2 linked regions of the Homo sapiens genome follow. The protein of the gene in region 1 purifies or fractionates together with the protein of each later gene. This does not show direct contact. Each region holds a gene or a part of one and is shown on either strand. Other genes may lie near its edges.

Region 1 (3,908 bases):
TAATGTAGATAATATTAAGGGTGATGCAAGTAAAGCCACCTAGTTTACTAAGGTCCCACGGCAAGTCTAAGTAAGCGTTATCTCTTCTTATGACAAGAAACAAATTGAGGCCGGGTGAGGTGGCTCATGCCTGTAATCCCAACACTTTGGGAGGCCAAGGTGGGTGCATCACTTGGGCCCAGGAGTTTGAGACCAGCCTGGGCAACACGGCAAAACCCCATCCCTTTCCAAAAATACAAAAAAATTGGCCAGGTGTAATGGCACATGCCTGTAGTCCCAGCTACTAGGGAGGCTGAGGTGGGAGGATTACTTGAGCCTGGGAGGTCAGGCTGCTGCCAGCCGCGAGTGTGCCACTGCACTCCAGCCTGGGCAACAGAACAAGATCCTATCTCAAAAAAACAAAAAACCGAAGTTGAAATCTCAAACAACCCTAACAACCTGGGAGCTATCATTCCATTCTCTTTTCCATGGAAAAGAGAGATTTTGTGGGTAACTAGCTTAAGGGTGGAGAGCCAGTTAGTGATGGAGAGGAAATTTCAATCTGGTGGGCCACACTTCAGAATCCGAAATCCCATTATATTGCTTTCCCTTCTCCAGCCTTCCCTGGGATTATCTCAGTTTTCATGAAATAAAAAAAAAAAAAAAAGCAAACCCAATAATTAGAATAATCAATAGAAATGCCCCAACTAGAGCTATGACCAACATATCCATCGTGCCATAAGCAATACTGATGAGCAGTGATCTTGTAAGGCAGAAGAAATCACGGCCTTGGCCGGGCGTGGTGGTTCATGCTTGTAATCCCAGCACTTTGGAAGGCCGAGGCGGGAGGATCACCTGAGGTCAGGAGTTCAAGACCAGCTGGCTAACATGGTGAAACCATGTCTCTACAAAAATACAAAAAATTAGCTGGGCCTGATGGCGGGTGCCGGTAATCACAGCTACTTGGGAGGCTGAGGCGGAAGAATCGCTTGAACCTGCGAGGCAGAGGTTGCAGTGAGCCGAGATCGCGCCATTTTGCACTCCAGCCTGGGCGACAGAGCAAGACTCCGTCTTAAAAAAAAAAAAAAAAAAAAATCACGGCCTTGTTCCGCCTTCTGGGGCAACATGGAGTGAGATCACAGCGCCTGAGAAAGAACTTTGAAAACTGCGGCTGTGCTTTACAAAAATGTATCAGTATTATTAAATGCTGCCTCCACCTTTTAAAAATCAAACTCTAGAAAAAACACTCACCTGTTTGGCCTCTCCGGCCCCTCCCCCTCCCTGCCCTGAACTGCAGCTGTGCGCAGCCAGTTGCCTGTTTTCCTTAAAGGCCTCGGGGTGCTCGTATCTTCTTCAGACGTTCAGCCAAAATTTTTAAAGTGCGGCTGGGGGGAAGGGTAGCGCACTCTGAATTCATTTAGCTCTATCGTTGAAGCCCGGGTTCCTAGATCAGGGCACAAAAACAAATAGAAAAGACAATTTCTGGAAGATTGGAAAACAGCTAATTTTGCAGGTGCTTCGGCATCAGTGGTGGCGATGAATTTAACATCCATGCCGGGGGGGATAAGGTTCAACCGCAGATGAAATGGTTAATACCTTATACGAAATTCACGGCGAAAAATCCTGAAACAGGACATTTAAATTCACTGCCGAGGCTTGGGGGTGGGGTGGGGAGCAGGGATCGGAAACGACGCTAGTGGTTCTTAAATGCGTTTTTACTTGGGAATGCCCGGCAGGGAAAGGAAAGGTCATCGTCTGTTTAATTTCCACCCCCAGCTCTGGACTTCCAGCATTAGCTCGCCGGGCCTCAGCTGTTGTACACACACGGCGAGGGGGGAGGGGAGGGCGGAGGCGCGGAGGAGGGGCCGGCTGGGAGGAATCTGGGCGTCCTGCCGCGCATGCGCCTTGCCTGAGCAACAAGTGGGCTCCACAGAGGAAGTGTAAAGGGGAGGGGGAAGAACTGGTGCAGAGCATGGCGGTGACGTCAGCGCTCCGCCCGGGCGGCATCCCGCGCGGCCAAGCCGGGGACAGCGCGAGCCGCAGCCGGAGCAGGAGCGCCGAGACGCGCCTCCGGAACGTAGAGTAACAATCACAACCCCACATTCCGGGCGAGCGTGAGCACGAGCGGGAAGGGATGCGACCCGGGCCGAGGCGCCGCGCGAGCGCCCTGCAGCCAACGTGAGCGCCGCCAGCCGCGGCGGCCCGGGCGCCGGCCAGGCCTGGGGGCGGCGGGAGCCTGCGTGCGTGCACTCCTCTCCTCTGCTCTCGTGCGTCCTGGAAGCAGTGGCCGCGGCGGCTCCCTCCGGGGTGCAAACCCAGTCGCCGCCAGCAGAACGGCCGACGCTGCGGAGGGGAGAAGGTCCTTTCTCGGCTGCCACCCCCTCCCCCGGTCCTCCGGGGAAGCAGCGGCTTCAGCAAGATTGGACCCGGGCACCGGGTGGCACTGAACCCTCTGGCCCTCGCCCCAGGGGGCCCGTCGGGGAGAGGACGCAGCTCGTAGGGGGGTCCCCGGGGAGAGGAAGAGACAGCCCCTTTCGAGCTTCCACGCACCAGCCACTCCGGGGAGGGGGCCAAGAGGCAACGGCGGCCACCACCGGGCACCCTCGCCCCCTCCCCTCGGGCCGGGAGCTTCCAGCCCAAGTCTGCAGCACCAGGAAGAAGGCGCCTGAGCTCCCCTCGCGACGAGTCAACCGCAGTAGGAGGTGGGGGCGAAGAGAGGGCTGAACCCGTCCGCTGCCCGGGCGGTGGAGCCCCCACGGCGAGGCGCTGCGCCGGCGGTGGAGACTCGCGTTCCCTCCAGCCCCTGGGGCAGAACTTTCTCGCCCCCCCTCCTCCCTCCCCCGCAGTCGGACTCCCTCCCCAGCCGGCCAGTCCTCCCGGAGGAGAAGGCGCCGCGGAGACAGCCCGGGCGGGGGCCTACCTTCCCCAGGGCAGGCATCATGTCGGCGGCGCAGGTGTCCTCGTCCCGGAGACAATCTTGCTACCTGTGCGACCTGCCCCGCATGCCCTGGGCCATGATCTGGGACTTCTCGGAACCCGTATGCCGCGGTTGCGTCAACTACGAGGGCGCTGATCGCATCGAATTCGTGATCGAGACAGCGCGCCAGCTGAAGCGGGCGCACGGCTGCTTCCAGGACGGCCGCTCCCCCGGGCCGCCGCCGCCCGTCGGGGTCAAGACAGTGGCCCTGTCGGCTAAGGAAGCGGCGGCGGCGGCGGCAGCAGCGGCGGCCGCCGCCGCCGCCGCGCAACAGCAACAGCAACAGCAGCAGCAGCAGCAGCAACAGCAGCAGCAGCAGCAGCAGCAGCAGCAGCAACAACAGCTCAACCACGTTGATGGTTCCAGCAAGCCTGCGGTGCTGGCGGCCCCGTCTGGCCTGGAGCGCTACGGCCTAAGCGCTGCCGCCGCCGCCGCCGCCGCCGCCGCCGCTGCGGTGGAACAGCGCAGCCGCTTCGAGTACCCGCCACCGCCGGTGAGCCTGGGAAGCAGCAGCCACACCGCGCGACTGCCCAACGGCCTGGGGGGCCCAAACGGCTTCCCCAAACCAACACCAGAGGAGGGACCCCCAGAGCTGAACCGTCAGAGCCCCAATTCTTCTTCAGCGGCGGCGTCGGTGGCGTCTCGGCGTGGAACGCACGGTGGGCTGGTTACGGGGCTGCCCAACCCGGGGGGTGGCGGAGGCCCCCAGCTCACCGTGCCCCCCAACCTGCTACCGCAGACGCTGCTTAACGGCCCGGCCAGCGCTGCGGTACTCCCCCCACCCCCTCCCCACGCCCTGGGCAGCCGTGGGCCCCCGACGCCTGCTCCCCCAGGGGCTCCTGGGGGCCCCGCTTGTCTCGGGGGTACCCCGGGTGTATCGGCCACGTCGTCCTCCGCGTCGTCTTCGACCTCTTCGTCGGTGGCAGAGGTGGGCGTGGGTGCTGGTGGTAAG
Region 2 (3,908 bases), on another chromosome or scaffold:
TTACTGTTGCAGCAATGACGGCAACAGTATTTAGTATTTAGATGTCATATAGTTTTTTTGTTTTGTTTTGTTTTTTGAGACGGAGTCTTGTTCTGTCACCCAGGCTGGAGTGCAGTGGCACAATCTTGGCTCACTGCAGCCTCTGCCTCCCGTGTTCAAACAATTCTCCTGCCTCAGCCTCCCTAGTAGCTGGGATTACAGACACATGCCACTATGCCCGGCTAATTTTTGTATTTTTAGTAGAGACAGGGTTTCACCATGTTGGCCAGACTGTTCTCAAACTCCTGACCTCAAGTGATCCGCCCGTCTCAGTCTCCCAGAGTGCTGGGATTACACGCGTGAGCCACCGCATCCGGACTCCCAAGTAAGATTTCATTAGAACACCTTGCCATGAGTGTGCCTAATAAACCCAATGCAACTATTGCTGGATTTTTTTTTTTTTTTGAGACGGAGTCTCGCTCTGTCGCCCAGGCCGGACTGCGGACTGCAGACTGCAGTGGCGCAATCTTGGCTCACTGCAAGCTCCGCTTCCCGGGTTCACGCCATTCTCCTGCCTCAGCCTCCCGAGTAGCTGGGACTACAGGCGCCCGCCACCGCGCCCGGCTAATTTTCTGTATTTTTAGTAGAGACGGGGTTTCACCGTGTTAGCCAGGATGGTCTCGATCTCCTGACCTCATGATCCACCCGCCTCGGCCTCCCAAAGTGCTGGGATTACAGGCGTGAGCCACCGCGCCTGGCCTATTGCTGGATTTTTAACATACAACTCCTTCAAATTATTTATTCAAATATTATTTTGGAATATTAAAAATATATTTTTAGAATAGTAATTCAAATGTTTAGTTTTTGTTTTTTTTTTTTCTATTTTGTTAACACGTTCTTGATGTGCTGAAAACTGAACATTCAGTGGTTCACTCGTTCAGTAAACAGTTTTTGGGCACCTGAACTTGGTTGTGCTAGGCACTGGGTAATCAAAGTTTAAGCCCCAAGTTCTTCCAATAGCAAATAGTACAGCTGCATGCCACTAGCTTCTTACACACAGGTGGGTGACATACATGCCAAATGAAAATAATTTTACCCTTTCCCTCTATAATTTCAAGTACACTTTTAATTTTTGATATTATAGCCCTATTTGCTTAAACACTCTTCCATCTCTTCTCCTCTCCTTGTCTCCTTTTTTTCTTTTCTTTTTTTTTTTTTTTTTTGAGACAAAGTCTCACTCTGTTGCCCAGGCTGGAGTGCAGTGTCACGATCTTGGCTCACTGCATCCTCCTCCTCTCAGGTTCAAGCAATTCTCCCACCTCAGCCTCCTGAGTAGCTGGGACTACAGGCGTGCGCTACCACACCAGGCTAATTTATGTATTTTTAGTAGAGATGGGGTTTCACCATGCTGGCCAGGCTGGTCTTGAACTCTTGACCTCAAGTGATCCGCCTGCTTCGACTAGGATTACAGGTGTGAGCCACTACACCCGGCCCCCTCGTTTTTTTAAATAAAATTATAACATTAGGTGGGAAAAAACACTTTAAAAGTAGTTCTGTCAACTATTTTGGGGGCTGTGGGCCAGTCATTTAATCCATCTGAACCTGTTTCCTCTGCTGTGAAAGGGTGATACCCTCCTTGCCCTGTCCATCTCAGTTGTTATGGGGATTATGGAAGAAGCTATATGTAACATTAACATCAGAAATTTAAATATCCAGTTAAAGTGTAAATGGATATTATAAAACAATCTTTAAAAGAAACAAAGACACTATATATATATATATGGCTTATGCATCACTAGCACTTTGGGTTTCCGAAACCCCAACATGAAGTTTCACGAAAGTTGCATTCCATGGGAGTTTGCTTCCATGATGGATTTTTTACTTTGTACTTAGCTCCTGAAAAAGAAACTTCCTGGGTTTTCTTTTTTCCTCCTACGGTTTTGCAGCGGCTTGGCTGCTTCCTGTCAAGAGCCACTCTGCCAAGGCCCCGTCTCTAGAGTCTCTCCCCCTCCCCTTTCTCTTTCTTTCCAACACTTGCTACATTGAGAGGCTGATCCTGTGCAGAAGCCCTCCCTGCCTCGGCAGCGCGGCGCAGTGAGCATGCTCGGCCTCCTGCGGGAAGAGGAAGCGGCGGCATAGGAGTCATGCCAAGCATAGCCCTCATGTCAGCGCTGCCGGCTTGCAGCGGGCTGTGAGAGGGGCCGGCGCCGCTTTGTCCTAGGAAACGGGCTGCGCGTTTCTCTTTTTCACTCTTTTCCATTTCCAGGAAGGACTTGTAAGGACTTCTGAAACGCTGTTTTCATACTCGATCGGGGATACAGTACATACACCGTCTACCAGTAAGCCCTTGAAGGGTTTCGTGTGAGCTCGATTTTTTTGTGCCTGATTTTTTTTTTTTTAACTTTTGCATACTTTGTTTTGATAGTCTGAGGCTGGGCCTCTGCCTTTGTGAAGTTGAAGAGCCAGGAGCTACTCAGCAACAATTGATTTTTGAAACTTAACTCTTTTGGGGCAAAAGCAAAGAGCTGGTTTTCTTTGCTAGCCCAATAAATGCTATTTATGAAGATGGACCTGTTGAACTATCAGTACTTGGACAAGATGAACAACAATATCGGCATTCTGTGCTACGAAGGTAGATGTCCCGTTGTAGAATTACTGCCCGTTGCTCGTCCCGGCCACTCCTCCTCAGTGTGCTGGGTGCCTGCCTTCTAAGCGCCCGCTGTCCTCCTCCGGGGTGTAGGGCACTTGAAAGGCCGGCGTTTCTTAGGTTCGGTTCGGCACCGAGTGTGTTCGGATCTCAGGCTGCGGGGGGCGGTGGAGGGGGCTGGACGGGGAGGCAGTGAAGTAGAAACCCTTCAAAGTTTGCTCGTTGCTTGCAACGTACTCGCGCCTCACATTTTTAACTCTTTAAAATGTATGTATTTTTGATTTCCGTTAATATTGTCTTTAGGGGAAGGACTTGTAGGACGCCGGTAAAAGTTGAGCCTCTTTGGGGGAGGGGCTGGTAAGGATTGCACCGTCTACTGTACCCTGCTGTGGGCCACGGCGCCCTGCAGCTCACGGAGGGGGAGCCAAAGTTACAGCGAGTTTTTGTGCTCGCGAGTGAGCGTCCCAAACAGCGGAGAATGTCCCTCTCCCGCGTGGGGCCGGAAGGGCACCGTGTCAGCGAGCACAGGCGGGCTCTTTGTCTCGCTGGCGCTTCCTGTGCAGCCCGGGGAGCGCTGACACTGGGGGGTGTTCCTCGCGCTCCGCTCCCTGTGGGAGCGATTACACAACACCCCGACCCCCAGCCTGCCCTGAAAAAGAGAGAGCCGCGCCGAACTGTTATTTATTACCTCCTACTGCCCGCGAGGTGCTTCCCCCACTGTCTTGTATTTCCAACTGTCTCTGGTAGCAGTCAGAGAAAAATCTATTTCTTAAGCCCTCGGACATCCTCTACGTGCGATTTGAAAAAGTGGCAATGGCCCTGGGTCTGCCGCCGAGGGCATCTCCGGGGGAGTTCGGCCTGGCAGGAAGAGTGTTTTCTGTTGTAACCACACACACATCCGGGACTCTTCTCTTTCTCATTCAGCAGGAGCAGTTTCCATTTTTTCTCCAATAATACACGGGACATTTCTCTTGAAAAAGAAAACAGTTACAAAAACTTGGGAGGGTGATTCACTTGTATTTTTTTAATCTAAAAACTTCAGGCCTGTTTCCTAATCAGTTGAAAACTCACCCTTTCAAGAGTATTTTTCCCCTTCAAGGAAAAAAAACAACAACAACCCTCATTCACGTTGTTTTTTAAAACTCTATGGATGAGGATCTCATATTTAACGTTTTTTAAAAAGAGTATTTGTTTTTCTTTACTCCTACTAGTTCCTGCTATGAGAATTTTCGTGAATTTCTTTCTTTGCATCTGATGTGTTAAGTAACATCTTGCTTCTGAA

Evidence for each region.
Region 2: the proteins of IRF2BPL (region 1) and VGLL4 purify together in Homo sapiens (affinity purification with mass spectrometry; 5 studies listed by BioGRID and IntAct, with this or other methods). This does not show direct contact.

What each region holds. Positions count from the first base shown.
Region 1 is NC_000014.9:77,026,803-77,030,710, reverse strand, and holds the start of IRF2BPL (probable E3 ubiquitin-protein ligase IRF2BPL), read left to right. Parts: upstream 1-2,002; 5' UTR 2,003-2,918; coding exon 2,919-3,908. UniProt on the Homo sapiens protein: Probable E3 ubiquitin protein ligase involved in the proteasome-mediated ubiquitin-dependent degradation of target proteins. Through the degradation of CTNNB1, functions downstream of FOXF2 to negatively regulate the Wnt signaling pathway.
Region 2 is NC_000003.12:11,642,140-11,646,047, reverse strand, and holds the start of VGLL4 (transcription cofactor vestigial-like protein 4), read left to right. Parts: upstream 1-2,132; 5' UTR 2,133-2,529; coding exon 2,530-2,611; intron 2,612-3,908. UniProt on the Homo sapiens protein: May act as a specific coactivator for the mammalian TEFs.